3 separate regions of the Homo sapiens genome follow, and regions 2 and 3 are each linked to region 1. Evidence: fine-mapped expression QTL. A gene starts in region 1. Each other region holds a variant in brackets. All regions are shown on one strand. Distances are from middle to middle.

The links. PIP is the estimated chance that this variant, and not a neighbour inherited with it, causes the effect.
Region 2: its variant is the best candidate, but not a certain one, in a credible set for the expression of WBP2 in whole blood (TOPMed, PIP 0.78).
Region 3: its variant is the best candidate, but not a certain one, in a credible set for the expression of WBP2 in whole blood (TOPMed, PIP 0.86).

The regions. Positions count from the first base shown.
Region 1 is chr17:75,852,906-75,858,231 of GRCh38, forward strand. It overlaps WBP2 (WW domain binding protein 2), which reads right to left and starts at 2,430. Exons shown (of 8, transcript NM_012478.4): 1 at 2,334-2,430. The coding sequence starts at 2,392. RefSeq lists enhancers at 2,516-2,645, 3,254-4,049 and a silencer at 3,016-3,185.
Region 2 is chr17:75,952,314-75,957,639 of GRCh38, forward strand. It overlaps ACOX1 (acyl-CoA oxidase 1), which reads right to left. Exons shown (of 14, transcript NM_004035.7): 4 at 5,146-5,253; 5 at 3,515-3,634; 6 at 3,253-3,368; 7 at 1,138-1,307. Among named protein-coding and RNA genes, the nearest start is that of FBF1, 14 kb to the left of the region's middle. The variant C/T (reference allele first, on the strand shown) is at 2,419.
Region 3 is chr17:75,910,156-75,915,481 of GRCh38, forward strand. FBF1 (Fas binding factor 1) reads right to left here. Exons shown (of 30, transcript NM_001319193.2): 24 at 4,862-4,984; 25 at 4,592-4,777; 26 at 3,967-4,143; 27 at 3,758-3,895; 28 at 3,547-3,664; 29 at 2,037-2,152; 30 at 1-651. The coding sequence ends at 568. Among named protein-coding and RNA genes, the nearest start is that of MRPL38, 7.9 kb to the left of the region's middle. RefSeq lists a silencer at 708-868 and an enhancer at 4,773-5,067. The variant C/T (reference allele first, on the strand shown) is at 2,701.

The DNA of each region.
Region 1 (5,326 bases):
GGGGTTTGCAGGAAAGTCCATGAAGCCCTTGAGATGATCACGTATGTCATATGTGCATTTTTCTGGGAGGAGAGTCCACAGCTTTCATCATTGTCAAAGGAGTTCACGACTTGAAGAGTAACGTTCACTATTTTAATTATAATTTTTTATTTTTTTGAGACGGAGTTTCACTCTTGTTGCCCAGGCTGCAGTGCAACATAGCGTGATCTCAGCTCACTGCAACCTCCACCTCCTGCGTTCAAGCGATTCTCCTGTCTCAGCCTTCCAAGTAGCTGGGATTACAGGCATGCGCCACCACGCCTGGCTAATTTTTTGTGTTTAGTAGAGACGAGGTTTTACCATGTTGGTCAGGCGGGTTTCAAACTCCTGACCTCAAGTGATCCACCCACCTCAGCCTCCCAAAGTGCTGGGATTACAGGCGTGAGCCACCATGCCCAGCCTAATTATCAAATTTTGGACACTGGACTTAACACTTCAATTGTTATAGATACAACTTTTTCAGACAGCAGGCTGAAGCACTTTCTAAAACAGCAGGCTGAAGGCACACCTTACTTAGCAGGACTGAGCCCTAAGCCAGGTAGAAGGCCGAGCAGGATAGATACATTCTTGTCTCAGAAAGTTCCACAGAGACAGAAAGAAAAACAGTCCCCAGAGATGTTGCCAAATGGCACGAAAAGCTGGCCAGGCCTGGGAACTGACTCACACACAGAGATGCAACAAAACAGTGTGAGGTGTCTCTGATTACATGATAAAAAGGTTCACACGGTTCTGTTTGTCTTCTGCCTCCCCCCATATATCACAACTTTCTCTGACTGGGGAAGGGTAAGTGGGAAACAACTGGTATAAGCAAAGGAAAATGGCTGGGCGCGGTGGCTCACTCCTGTAATCCCAATACTTTGGGAGGCCGAGGAGGGTGGATCACGAGGTCAGGAGTTCGAGACCAGCCTGCCCAACATGGTGAAACCCTATGTCTACTAAAAATACAAAAAATTAGCTGGGTGTAGTGGCGGGTGCCTGTAATGCCAACTACTGGGGAGGCTGAGGCAGGATAATCGCTTGAACCCAGGAGGCGGAGGTTGCAGTGAGCTGAGATCGTGCCACTGCACTCCAGCCTGGGCGACAGAGCAAGCCTCCATCTAAAAAAAAAAAAAAAAAAAAAAAAAAAAGAGAAGAGAAGTACTGCTCAGAGAAAAGAAGGAATTACCAGCAACAGGCTGGGCCCATGAAACTCTGAGCGGGTAAGATAGAGGGAAAGTGAGCATGCTGGGTCACTCTAGGCATTTTCCTCTGACTCATCAAACATTCCCAAGTCACAGGGCAGCTGGATGCTGGCCTTAGCTGGGTACAGGGCTCTGACTCCACGATGTCTCCTTTGGGGACTCAGGTGCCTCCTAAGCTCCTTCTGCCTTCAAGAGGCAATTCAGGGTCGGCATAGTTCAACCCAGGGCTGGCTGGTCTGATTTTCAATACCCAAGGAACAAAAGGAGACAGAGGCCATTTAAGGCTTCTCTTGGCAGAGACTGGAGGAGAGACAGGATGCAATGAGCAAGGGGTGGGGAGGATGGAGTGGAAAGAACCTTGAATTAGGAGAGCTCTGCCTTCCGAGGTGACCCAAACCAACAGGCATTCAAGAGAGAGGCAAGGGAATGACTACGGACCCACACAGTGCCAGGAACTGTTAGACACCTGACAAACGTCATCTGTTTAATTTCACCTCTGGGACCTCAGTTTTTTACCGGGAACCTGAACAGTTCTGGAACATACTGGAAGCCTGTATGCTGGTGGTTAATCCTATTAACTTTGGAGTCAAGACTCCTTTCCTGGAATTACCACCTCTGTTACTTACACAGTTGCGATCTCGGGCAAGTTACTTAACCTTTCTGCCCTCCACTTTCCCTACCTGTGAAATGTGGACAGTAGTAGATTATACTGCACAGAATTTATTAAATAAGGTAGAAAAGGCGCAGAGCCTGACACGTAGTAACGTTGTAGACATCCAATAAGTGACAATTATTTTTGTTTGGGGCTCCTCCCAGCTACTGAAATCACAAGTCTGGGAAGGGGTTCAAGAATCACCCCTAGGCCCCACCGGGGGCCCCATACCAGGTCCCCATGCAGACGTCCCACCCCCGCCTCCCAGCTGATCACAACCTCCCGGGCTCTCCCCCACGGCCCACCCACCTTCCTCCAACCCCGCCCCCAGCCGTTCCCCACCAACCTCACTCCATCAGTGCTCCCTCTTCAGGGGCTTATTCCCCACCACCCACCACCCACCGCCCACTTCCTCGACACCCGAACTTTGGTCCTCCAGGATCCTTCCGCAGTGTTTTCACCTCTCGGTGTTATTGACGATCACTCCGCCGCCCTCCGAGTGATTCTTGTTGAGCGCCATAGTCTCTCCAACAGGGGTCCCGAGACTCAAAACGCAATGAGCTTGCGCCCCTCTTCGCCCCGCCCCTAGTGGCGTCTTCTTATTAGAGTCAGCCAATCAAAGCTCGAGTGCGGAGGCTGGCCCAAACACCTGACCCGAACGTCACGTGGTAATAGTTTACTCCCTCCTTCCAGTTCCTCCTGCGCAACAAACAAGATGAAGACTACAATTCCCAGCAGGCAACGCCCCCGCAGCCTCGGCCTGTCCCTATGCTGGAGGAAGGATGCATTCTGGAACTTGTAGTCTCCTGGATCATAGGCCTGAATTGGTTCCACATTTTGCGTAACCAATCGGCTTGTGCCATCCCCACCCCGCCTCTTCAGCCGGACGGAAATAAACAGTTCCGCTCCTGGCAGGGGCGCGATCTTGGGGACTCCGGCAGCGCGTTAAGGGAAGTCCTGCTGGTCGAATGCGACCTGGACATGGCGTGGGAGCGCCGAGCTGTCCCCTTGTGGATGGGGAGCTTTCGTTCACTCAGCAGACGTTTATGGGGCGCATGCGTGACTCTGGGGCGTTTAGCTGAGCCGGAGGCCCCGGCTCTTGGGGACGCGGTGGGCTGGCGGCGTCGGATCACCCCGCCATCCATCTCACCACTCCCAGCGCTGAGCCCGGGGGGCGGGGAGAGTCCCTCATGGGAAGGGGAGGCCGTGTGCCCCGCCTGGCTCCCACCACGTTCGCAGGCCGGCCGGGCGCCCCTCGCAGCCCCCTCTCCGGCCTCGCGGTGGCGCCGCTCCCCCCTTAGCGCCCAGCGGGGTCCCGGCCGGAAGACTGAAGGCTGAGTGGGACTGGGCACGGCGCGAAACCGGCATCCTGATAACTAGGATTTACAGAATAAGGCTGACTCCTGTCAGCTCGTGACCCAGCCCTGGGCGTCCTCCACGGGGCAGCTGTCATTCCCTAACCGCCCCCCACCAAACCCCTGCACCTCCGAGCTGAATCCGTGAGGCGGAGAGAGGGGGCTGCACTTCCCACGTGGTAGTTCCGGTACTCGTTAATGTTAAGGAATTAGAGTTTGCTTTTCAGTAGACAGCTGCTTTCCTGACTGTGGTGGCCAACCTCTAGATCCACCTGCTTGACTTCGCTTTCCAGGGAGGTCTCCTATGTGAAGAAACAAAGCTGCCTCACTAGAAAAGATCAGGAAACAGCAGCGTTCTGTGAGGTCCTGTGCAATACCAGGTTGGACCTTGCGGGACAAGTACAGTGGGTTAAGGATAGTCATAATGAAATCTGCCCCAATGGTTAGATGTATTTTGGCGCCTGCAATCTCTGCAGTCTTTAAAAAGAATTAAGTCAGACTATGTGCTGATATGGGAAGATCATCAAGGGTTATTAAGCACAGAATGCTGTATACATATAGTTGTATTTGTATAAAAAATAGGATCTAGATAGAAAATTTTTGCAAAGATCCATCAGAAAATGTCTGTGGCATTTTTGAGACATGGGTCTAGGAATTTGGGGTGGATTGGTGACTCGGTATGTCAGTATGCATTGTACTCTTTGGTACTGTTTAATTTTTTTTTCCTATGTGCGTTTAAAATATAAATTTAGGCCGGGCGCGTGGCTCACGCCTGTAATCCCAGCACTCTGGGAGGCCGAGGCGGGCGGATCACGAGGTCAGGAGATCGAGACCATCCTGGCTAACAGAGTGAAACCCCTTATTAAAAATACAAAAAAAAAAAAAAAATTAGCCGGACGTGGTGGCGGGCGGCTGTAGTCCCAGCTACTTGGGAGGCTGAGGCAGGAGAATGGCGTGAACCCGGGAGGCAGAGCTTGCAGTGATCTGAGATTGCGCCACTGCACTCCAGCCTGGGTGACAGAGTGAGACTCCATCTCAAAATAAAATAAAATAAAAATAAATAAATAATATGTAAATTTAAAAAAGAAAAGCAGGCCGGGGTTTGTGGCTCACGCCAAAGGCGTGAGCCAAATTCCAGCACTTTGGGAGGCCAAGGCAGGTGGATCACCTGAGGTCAGGAGTTCAAGACCAGCCTGGCCAACATGGTGAAACTCCATCTCTACTAAAAATACAAAAATTAGCCGGGCATGGTGGCGGGCACCTGTAATCCCAGCTACTCGGGAGGCTGAGGCAGGAGAATCGCTTGAACCTGGGAGGCAGATGTTACAGTGAGCCAAGATCATGCCACTGCATTCCAGCCTAGGCGACAGAGCAAGACTCCATCTCAGAAAAAAGAAAAAGAAAAGCAAAATCCAGGCCTGGTGCCGTGCCTGTAATCCCAGCACTTTGGGAGGCCAAGGTGGGTGGATCACTTGAGGCCAGGAGTTTGAGACCAGCCTGGACTACATGGCAAAATCCCATCTCTATAAAAATACAAAAATTAGGCCGGGCGCGGTGGCTCACACCTGTAATCCCAGCACTTTGGGAGGCCAAGGTCGGCGGATTACCTGAGGTCAGGAGTTCAAGACCAGCTGGCTAACATGGAGAAACCCCGTTTCTACTAAAAAATACCAAAAACTAGCCGGGTGTGGTGTTGTGCGCCTGTAAGCGCCTGTAATCCGCGCGCCTGTAATCCCAACTACTCGGGAGGCTGCGGCAGGAGAATCCCTTGAACCTGGGAGGTGGAGGTTGCAGTGAGCCGAGATCACGCCATTGCACTCCAGCTTGGGCAACAAGAGCAAAACTCCATCCCAAAAAAAAAAAAAAAAACGCAAAAATACAAAAATTAGTTGTGCATGGTGGCGTGGTTCCTGTAATCCCAGCTAATAGGGAGGCTGAGACATGAGAATTGTTTGAACCTGAGAGGCGAAGGTTTCAGTGAGCCAAGATCGTCCCAGTGCACTCCAGCCTGGGCAACAAAGGAAGATTCTGTCTCAAAGAAAAGAAAAAGAAAAAAAGGAAAATCCCCCCAGCAAAGAGCAGGCAGCATTGGCTGCTCT
Region 2 (5,326 bases), 99 kb after region 1:
TTTGAGATGAAGTCTCTAACACCCAGGATGGAGTGCAGTGTTGTGATTTCGGCTCACTACAACCTCCACTTCCTGGGTTCAAGTGATTCTCCTGCCTCAGTCTCCCGAGTAGCTGGAATTACAGGCACCCGCCACCACACCCAGCTAATTTTTGTATTTTAGTAGACGTGGGGTTTCTCCATGTTGGCCAGGCTGGTCTTGAACTCCTGACTTCAAGTGATCCACCCGCTTTGGCCTCCCAAAGTGCTGAGATTACAGGCGTGAGCCACTGCGCCTGGCCTTAAAATTTAATTAACTTTTAATTTTTTTGAAAATAGACCAGCCTGGCCAACATGGCGAAATTCCGTCTCTACTAAAAATACAAAAATTAGCTGGGCATGGTGGCGTGCACCTGTAATCCCAGCTACTCAGGAGGCTGAGACAGGAGAATCACTTGAACCCAGGGTGGCAGAGACTGCAGCAAGCTGAGATCGCGCCACTGCACTCCAGTCTGGGCAACAGAGTGAGAATCCATCTCAAAAAAAAAAAAAAAAGAAAAGAAAATAGAGACAGGGTCTCACTATGTTGCTCAAGTTGGCCTCAAACTCCTAGGCTCAAGTAATCTTCTTGCCTTAGCCTCCCAAAGTGCTGGGATTACAGGTGTCAGCTACCACACCTGGCCAGTTTCTTTATTCCTTAGGAGTAAAAAGAGTATCAGGGAGTATCAGTGAAAGGCAGTTGTAGGAATAAACTGTGGCTATGAATGCAAAAGGGAAACAAATTTAATGTCACTTTCACCATGCACAATTTACAGTTGCTAGTAGTAATCAGAACTTTCAAACTGCCTTTAGTGTGTTGAACATTTCACTTATAAAGTTCAAGTAATATTATTACTATTTTTCTTAAAAAGTTAAAAATAATAAGGTGGGTATTCTCTTTTTTTCTTTTTTGGCAGTCACTGATTATAGCAAGGGTGGTTATTTCTGTCTTTCCTCTTAAGAAAAGGAAGCCTAGATATGAAATTACAGGCCCAGTTATCACCCTAGCCAATTTTGCAGTGCTAATGCATCTTCTGTATTGACATTTGGGAATTCTGGGATCTGAATGGGGTAAAAACTAGGCCTTTGGTACTGAGCCCATCTAGGACCCTATCCTTACCCTGGCTTGATTTCAGACTGGTGCCTCACAGCGCTGTATCGGATGGCAATGGTGCACGCCTTAGACAGAGCCCGAGCAGCTTCTCCCACAAGGAAGGACCTGACAAACACCATGGTCCCGTAAGTCAGCTTGTTACTCAGCGGTTTCACGTATGTGCCATCAGGCTTCACCTGGAAGAAGAACGTGGAACTGATACTTCCTTCTTTTAAGCCCAAGAGGCAGTTCAGTGGTTCTCAAAGTGTGGTCCCTGGAATAGCAGCATCAGCATCACCTGGCAACTTGCATGAAATACTACATCTTAGTCCCCACCCTGACCAACTGAATCAGAAACTCCAGGGTAGGGCCTAGCAACCTGGGCTTTAACTGGCCTTCCAGGTGATTCTAACGCATGCAAAAGTTTGAGAATCATTGGTTTAGCAAATCAAAATATGTCCTTCAACCCTGACAACTGTTTCTGATTTCACTGTCGCAGTAAAAGAAGCATCAGAGTGGGCGTGATGGCTCACGCCTGTAATCCCAGCACTTTGGGAGGCCAAGGCAGACAGATCAAGAGGTCAGGAATTCGAGACCAGCCTGACCAACATGGTGAAACCCCATCTCTACTAAAAATACAAAAATTAGCTGCGTGTGGTGGCACGTGCCTGTAATCCCAGCTACTCAGGAGCTGAGACAGGAGAATCGCTTGAACCTGGGAGGCGGAGGTTTCAGTGAGCTGAGATTGCGCCACTGCACTCCAGCCTGGGTGACAGAGCAAGACTCTGTCTCAAAAAAAAAAAAAAACCAAAAAATGCTGGGTGCGGTGGCTCATGCCTGTAATCCTAGCACTTTGGGAGGCCGAGGCAAGAGGGTCCCCTGAGGTCAGGAGTTTGAGACCAGCCTGGCCAACAGGGTGAAACCCCACCTCTACTAAAAATACAAAACAATTAGCTGGGTGTGGTGGCGCATGCCTGTAATCCCAGCTACTTGGGAGGCTGAGGCAGGAGAATCGCTTGAACCCAGGAGGCGGAGGTTGCAGTGAGCCAAGATCACGCCACTGCACTCCAGCATGGGTGACAGAGACTCTCTCTCTCAAAAAAAAAAAAAAGGGGCATCAGAAGGAAAAATGCATTATTAGCTCCTTTTTTTTTTTTTTTTTTTTTGAGACAGAGTCTCGCTGTATTGCCTAGGCTGGAGTGCAGTGGTGTGATCTCGACTTACTGCAACCTCTGCCTCCTGGGTTCAAGCGATTCTCCTGCCTCAGCCTCCTGAGTAGCTGAGATTACAGGCGTGTGCCATCACACC[C/T]GGCTAATCTTTGTATTTTTAGTAGAGACAGGTTTTCACCATATTGGTCAGGCTGGTCTTGAATTCCTGACCTTATGATCCATCCTCCTTGGCCTCCCAAAGTGCTGGGACTACAGGCATGAGCCACCGCGCCCAGCCTTATTCCCTCCTTTTATGAGACGGAGTCTCACTCTGTTGCCAAGCTGGAGTGCAGTGTCATGATCTCTGCTCACTGCAACCTCCGCCTCCCGGGTTCAAGCTATTCTCCTGCCTCAGCCTCCTGAGTAGCTGGGACTACAGGTGCGCACCACCACGCCCAGCTAATTTTTTGGTATTTTTAGTAGAGATGGGGTTTCACCATGTTGGCCAGGATGGTCTCCATCTCTTGACCTCATGATCTTCCCGCCTCAGCCTCCCAAAAGTGCTGGAATTACAGGTGTGAGCCACTGCGCCCAGCCTCCTTTTTTTTTTTGAGACAAGGTCTCACTGTCATCTAGGCTGGAGTACGGTGGCATAATCACAGCTCACTGTAGCCTCGGCCTCCCAGGCTCAAGTGATCCTCCCACCCCAGTCTCCCAAGTAGCTGGGACTACACACGTGTGCCACCATACCCAGCTAGATTTTTTTACTTTTTGTAGAGATGGGTTCTCACTATGTTGCCCAGACTGATCTTGAGCTCCTGGGCTCAAGTCATCCACGCACTCAGCCTCCCAAAGTGCTGGGATAACAGGAATATGCCAGTGTGCCCTGCTGTTATTACCTTCTAAAAGAACAGACCATTCTAACCCTATTGTGAGTAACAGCCACTCAACTCCACTGTTTGATGCCTCTGCTTTATTTTCTATCAAAACATACCTGGGCATACTTCATCAGCATGTTTTCTCTGGGAATACGATGGTTGTCCATTTTGAGGTAGCCATTGTCTATCTCATCATAACCAAATTTGGGGCCGATGTCACCAACGGTAATTCCTACCACAGATGAAAGGACAGTCACGAGATGTTTATGCTCTGGAATTTCTGGCTTTTGCTCCGCCTCTTCAGTTGGGCATTCTACCTTTTGCAGAAGAAAGTGCTCAGTTTCATTTTCATCTCAACATCAGATGAACAGTTCTTACCTGGCAAAGGCTTATGGGTCCCGATTTCACGAATAGGTACGATAAAGGCATGTAATCCATAGCATTTCCCCTTAGTGATGAGCTGGGCAAGAACTATTGCATGATTTGAAGTCTTTCCAACTGTAATATCAAAGAGAACAAGGGAGGGGTGGGCAAACGTTCATACATTTTTAAAGGGTAGAAAAAAGAAGAAAGAATATGTTAAATCTAACACTAGACTAAACCAATAGTATGTGTCCAGAAAGCCTTTCTGCTGACAGCATCACACCTAGCTTTCAGAAAGAAATTCCCTTAAGCTAATAGTTATTACTTTCTTTTCTACTTATTTCTCATACATTTACGTAGAGAAAATTTTAGGATAAAAATAAGAATATTAATTTAAACTACTTCCTTGTTATCCCTTAAGGCAGTGCTGTCCAAAACAGTAATCACTAGCTACATGTGGCTTCTTACATATAAATTATAAATAAATAAAATATATAATGTGAATAACAAAATCCTTCAACCACTAACTGTATTGGAAATATATATTCCAAGATAATAACTCAGAATGGAATAAGAAGATATAAAAGTTTCGGGTCAGCCGGGCACGGTGGCTCGCGCCTGTAATTCCAGCACTTTGGGAGGCCGAGGCGGGCAGACCAGAGGTCAGGAGTTTGAGACCAGCCTGGCCAACATGATGAAATCCCATCTCTACTAAAAATACAAAAATTAGTTGGGTGTGGTGGCACGCTCCTGTAGTCCCAGCTACTCAGGAGGCTGAGGCAGGAGAATCGCTTGAACCCAGAAGGTGGAGGTTGCAGTGAGCGGAGATCACACCACTGTACTCCAACCTGGGTGACACAGTGAGACTCCATCTCAAAAAAAAAAAAAAGTTTGTGTTAAAACTATTTAAATTTTTTTCTTTTTTTTTTTTAAGAGACAGGGTTTCACTCTGTCACCCAGGCTGGAGTGCAGTGGCATGATCACAGATAGTAGCTCACTGCAGGCTTGAACTCTTGGGCTCAAGTGGTCCTCCCACCTCAGCCTCCTGAGTAGCCAGGACTATAGGTCTATAGGTATGTGCCGCTATGCCTGGCTTTCCTCTCTCTCTCTCTCTCTCTCTCTCTCTCTCTCTCTCTCTCTCTCTCTCTCTCTCTCTCTCTATATATATATATATATATATATATATATATATATATACACACACACACCTCTCTCTGTCTATATACACACACACACACCCCTCTATGTACACACACCACACACACATATATTTGTTTGTTGGGTTGTTTTTGAGACAAAGTCTTGCTGTGATGCCCAGGCTGGAGTGCAATGGTGCAATCTTGGCTCATTGCAACCTTCCCGGGTTCAAGTGATTCTCCTGCCTCAGCCTCCCAAGTAGCTGGGACTACAGGTGTGCGCCACCACACCCGGCTAATTTTTGTATTTTTAGTAGAGATGGGGTTTCAGCATATTAACCAGGCTGGTCTTGAATTCCTGACCTCAAGTGATCTGCCCACCTCAGCCTCCCAAAGTGTTAGGATTTCACCACCAAGTCTGGCCGACATTATCATAAAAGCTCTACATTCTAAGCAAAATCTCATGACAAACCTTCAAAACATCCAATAAATGCTGAAAAATTCACTTACGCCCACCAGGCCACCATTTAATGGAGGTCACAGTAGGACTGTTGAGAATGAACTCCTGGGTTTCAGGGTCATACGTGGCTGTGGTTTCCAAGCCTCGAAGGTGAGTTCCTAAGGAGATAAATTACATTGACTTCAGTTAAGAGATGGGGAAAAAAATAGGCACAAGGAAAAATTTCCTGCA
Region 3 (5,326 bases), 57 kb after region 1:
CAGGAGGAGGAGGGCCTGGCTGAGTTCCAGGAACATCTCACACCACAAGGGAGGATCTAGCTGGTGCCCTCCCTGTACTGTCAGGAGGCCAGAGGGCCCTTCTCCAGCTCATCAGGGAGGGAACTGCTCTGGCAGGGAGTAGGGAAGGCTGTTTGTGGCATCCCTCAAGAAAGCTCCTGCCTCAGAAGAGGCCCAGGCAAAAAGAGCCCACAACAGTCTACCTGTGGAGCAGGGGGAGCCCACAGAGCCCAGGGGGAGCCCACAGAGCCCAGTGAGAGCTGGGGGTCCTTGCTGCCAACTCAGACCCTCAGATCCAAGCCAATGGCTTTGGGGCAGGGCAGCCAAAGCCATGGTAAGATAGCCTACACCACAGAGCCCCAGAGGCAGGGGCTGCCCCGGGCTGGCACATTTGGAAAGGATGCACTTGCACCCTGTCCACGGAAGAGCTGTCATCAGGCCTCAAGCATCTCAGAATCCTCCCCAGGCACTGCCTCCATGGAGGCAGCCGGAGGAACAGGACAGTTCTGGGGTCCGAACCCTCTGTTGGGGAATCGGCTGGGGTCCCACTCAGGCTGAATGAGATGTCAAATTGTAGGACCCTTTCTTCAGGGTCTCCAGGAAGAACTGTTCATTCTCCAAGAAGTCACGGTCCTGCAAGGCAGGTTTGGATGGGCGGTCACCTTCCCTGAGCTGAGAGGGAGGTGGAGCCCTGGATGCTAGCTGAGCCAGCCGTCACTGAGGCCCCTCCCCACATCGTCCCTGACTCTGCCTGGCTCTGGGAGTCAGCAGGGGCCATGAAAGAGCCCAGGTATGGAGTGAGACAGACCACAGTCTCAATCCTGGCAAGGTTACTTGTTTGCTGTGGAACTTACGAGCACATGACTTCATGTCTCTAAGCCTCAGTTTCCTTGTCTGTAAACATTCCTTGTAGCCCTTCCTTGCAGGGCTGTGTGAGGGTAAAAGCTTAAAAAATACACAAAGCAGGCCAGGCACAGTGGCTCATGCCTGTAATCCTAGCTAATCCGCAGGCCAAGGGGGTAGGATCACTTGAGCCCAGGACTTTGAGACCAGCCGAGGCAACATCGTGAGACCCCATTTCTAAATATAAATAAATAAGTAAAATATAAACAAAGCCTTCGGCATTGAGGTTGGCACACAGGAAATGCTCCATAATGACAACTGTTATCATTATAGTTTTGTTTTGTTTAGTTTGAGACAAGTGCCTTGCTCTGTCACCCAAGCTGAAGTGCAGTGGTGTGAACACACCTGTAGCCTCGACCAGCTGGGCTCAAGCAATCCTCCCACCTCAGCCTCCCAAGTAGCTGGGACTATAGATATGCCCCACCATGCCCAGCTAATTTTTAAATTTTTAATATTTATTTTTTTGAGACAGAGTCTCGCTCTGTTGCCTGGAGTGCAGTGGCACCGTTGTGGCTCACTGCAGCCTCGACCTCCCGGGCTTAAGTGATCCTCTTACCTCAGCCTCCGGAGTAGCTGGGAGTACAGGTGTATGCCACCACGCTCAGCTATTTTTTTGTGGAGACGAGGTCTCACTATGTTGCCCAAGCTGGCCACGAACTCCTGGGCTCAAGTAATCCTCCCACCATAGCCTCCCAAAGTGCTGGGATTACAGGTGTGAGCCACGCACCTGGTCCTCTTTTTTTAGTTTTTCATTTTGTAGAGACGGTGTCTCAACATATTGCCCAGGCTGGTCTCAAACTCCTGGGCTCAAGTGATCCTCCTGCTTCAACCTCCCAAAGTGTTGGGATTACAGGTGTGAGCCACTGTGCCCAGCCTGTTATCATTATTGCTATAGGTTATCATGAGGTTTAACTGAGATGACATATGCAAATTGCTTTGCACAGAACCTGGCCTAGTGTGGAAGTCTGAGCATTGGCTCACTAAGCAAACTGCAGTTTTACTCCCCAGGAGCTGGGGTCACCCCTCCCCAGGGCTACCATGTGCTCCTCCCTGCCTCTGCCCTGAGCTGGAAGGACTCGTGAACACAAGGATCCCCAAGGCCAGGAGAGACTCACCTGCTCTGCCATGTGCCTCAGCAGTGCCAGCCTGGCATGGAGGTGCAAGGGGCTGGGGTCCAGGCCAGTTGGCGGCTGGCTGCACCAACGGGTGGTGGGAGCAGGAGGCATGAGGGCTGAAAAGGCCAAGGAGGAAGTCAGGGACCAAAGTGTTGGTGGAAATACCGGGCGGTCACAGCTTGTTCCTGCAGAGCTGCTCCCCCCGCCAGTGGGTGGACCCTGGCCATATACTCAGGGTGCAATGGCACTAACTCTCAGAAGCCTCTGGCAAATGCATACCTGCTCCTACCTGGAAAGACCATTTATAGGAATTTATTCCAGTGAAATAATCAGGCAAAGGTACAAACACATATGTAGGAAGATGTCCACTGGGTAGTCTTTCTCTTTAAGACAACAAATCACTCAGCACAGAGCAGCCTCACAGTGGAAAACTGTGCTGATTGGGAATTGACTAAATGTTTAATGACTGATCTGAAAACCTGTTCCACGTGTACATTACTGAGTAAAAAAAGTAAAGTTATTGAAAAACACATACAATCCTAATTTTGTTTTTAAAAACATGTACCAGGCTGGGCGCGTTGGCTCATGCCTGTAATCCCAGCACTTTGGGAGGCCAAGGCGGGTGGATCACCTGAGGTCAGGAGTTCAAGACCAGCCCGGCCAA[C/T]ATGGCAAAACCCTATCTCTGCTAAAAATACAGAATTAGCCAGGCATGGTAGCACATGCCTGTAATCGCAGCTACTTGGGAGGCTGAGGTAAGAGAATCGCGTGAACTCAGGAGGTGGAGGTTGCACTAAGCCGAGATCATGCCACTGCACTCCAGCCTGGGTGACAAGAGTGAAACTCCATCTCAAAAAAGAAAAGAAAAAAAAAGTACCAGAGTGGAACATTATGCACCAAAATGTTAAAAGTGAAAAGTGGTTCTCTCAAGACTCAGGAGTGGCGTTGAGGGTGACTTTTTTTTTTTTTTTTTTTTTTTAAACGGAGTCTTGCTCTGTCCCCTAGGCTGGAGTGCAGTGGCACAATCTCGGCTTACTGCAACCTCCACTTCTCGGGTTCGAGTGACTCTCCTGCCTCAGCCTCCTGAGTAGCTGGGATTACGGGCACCTGCCACCACACCCGGCTAATTTTGTATTTTTAGCAGAGACGGGGTTTCATTATGTTGGCCAGGCTGGTCTTGAACTCCTGACCTCAGATGATCCGCCTGCCTCGGCTGCCGAAAGTGCTGAGATTATAGGCGTGAGCCACCACGCCCAGCCTGACAATGACTTTTTTTATTTCCTTTTTTTTTCCTGAGTCCAGAGTTACAAAAAGGTGACATTTTTCATAATAGTGTTCCTCTATTTCTGATTTATCTAAAATTAACACACATTATTTGTGTAAAAAAGAAATAAGGCGACTATAAAACCCAGCTGGCCGCCTTAACTGGAGCGGCTGGAGGAGGGCCTGCCCACTCCTAGCACTGCCCCTGCCCAGTCCTGAGCCGCCGGCCCTTCCTTCTGGAGCCACTCACCACTCTGGCTGGAGGCTGCAGGGCCCTGGGCCCTGGGGAACAGACCCACGAGGCTAGAGGGCAGGTCCTGTCGTGCGCGGTCCAGTTGCAGCCTCTGCTGGGCCAGACTCAGATGCTCCTGTCCCCGTTCCCCCAGAAAGAAGGACTCAGCTGTGAGGTGGGAGGCTGGGGGTGCCGGGGGCAGGGGCGCCATACACTCAGGGAGCCTTGCCTGGTGCATGTGCTGCTCCTGCTTCCGCAGCCGCTCCTGCTGTTGCTGCACCGCCTGCAACCGGGCCTGCTGCTCTGCCTGCACCTGCTGGGCCTCGCGCAATGCCCGCTCCCCCTCCTCGTACTTCTCGGAGGCCACCTGCAGGGAGGCCGCCTGGGTCAGGGCTGCCTGGGCTCAGATGCGCCCACGCCCATGTGCCCGAGCAGCACCTTGCTCATGCTCTCCACCTCCTCGGCGCGGAGCTTGACACGCAGGGCGGTGGCGTTGATCCTCTCCTTCTCCAGCCGCAGCTCCTGCCGCTCCTGCTCCAGGGCTGCTCTCTCCGCTGCCAGCTGCTTCTCCTCGGCCCGGAGCTCGCTGGCCCTGATCTTCAGCTCAGCCTGCTCCTGGAGACAGCGGAGGCCCTGCTGCATTCTCCTCCCAGGAATTGCGCTGCACTCTGTGCAGGACTCTAGGGTCCCCTCTGCCCACCCTGCCCCTGGGAGGAGGTGGTGGAGCCAGGGGCTTCCAGGGAGAGCCAGAGAAGCCTGGGGCCAAGCCGGAGTGCTGCCCTCACAAGCCACGTGACTGTGGCAGGCTCAACTCTGAAGTTCGGTTTCCTCATTTCTAAATGACCAAAGTCATGGGAACATGAGGATCAAATAAAATGTGTATAATGCACCTGGGACAATACGAGGAAGATGTTAGCATGATGATGCGATTACTGTTTTAATCCCTATGCTCTTGTGACATTAGTGCTACACTCTCCTTTCCTAAGACTGGAAGCGGATGTGTCCAGATGGAGGGGCGCAGGCAACCCTGGGCCCTCCACTGTCCGGAGGCTCTGGGCCCTACCTTGGCCAGGCTGATGAGGGTGCCCTCCCGCTGGGTGTCCACCTGCAATGCCCGCTCGGCCTCGCGCTCGGCCCGCTCCTTACTCAGCTTTTGCTGCGCGGAGAACTCCGCCCACTCGGCAGCCAGGCGCCGCCGCTCCTCCCCGCACTTGAGCATGACAGACTTCTGCTCCTCCAGCAAGGCGCTCTGGGATGTGGGGGTGAAGGCACGGGGTGAGTGTCCCTGGGCATAATGGCAGGGGCAGGGGCTGAGTGCGGTGGCTTGACTCACCTTGGCCCGTTCCAGCTCCGCCCTTTCCATGGCCATCTGCTGGGCCGTGACCTTCCTTTGCTCCTCTAGGGCGCGCTGCATGGACTCCGCCTTGGACTGCTCGGCAGTCACCCGCCAGCGTTCCTGTAGGGCCCAGGGCAGGACTGAGAGCGTGGTTCCCGCCCTGAGGATCACGCCTGGCCACTCCCTGAGAAGCTGCATGAACCCACCAGTGTCTCCCACACTATGCCACTGACACGTCCTTCCCAAAGAGGCACAAAATGAGGGGTGCCTGGGAGGCACTGCCAGGGCCCAGCCCGCACGATTCTGCCCAAGAGAAGGACCCAGCAGGTGCCCTCCCAACCCTCAGGTCTCCAACAGCACCAAGGCTAGCAGCTTGGGAGGGCCAAAGAGCAGCAACATCCCTGCCGCTGAATCGCCAGCTACGCACTCTGCCTGTCCTCACCCATCAGCCAAGCAGGCTAA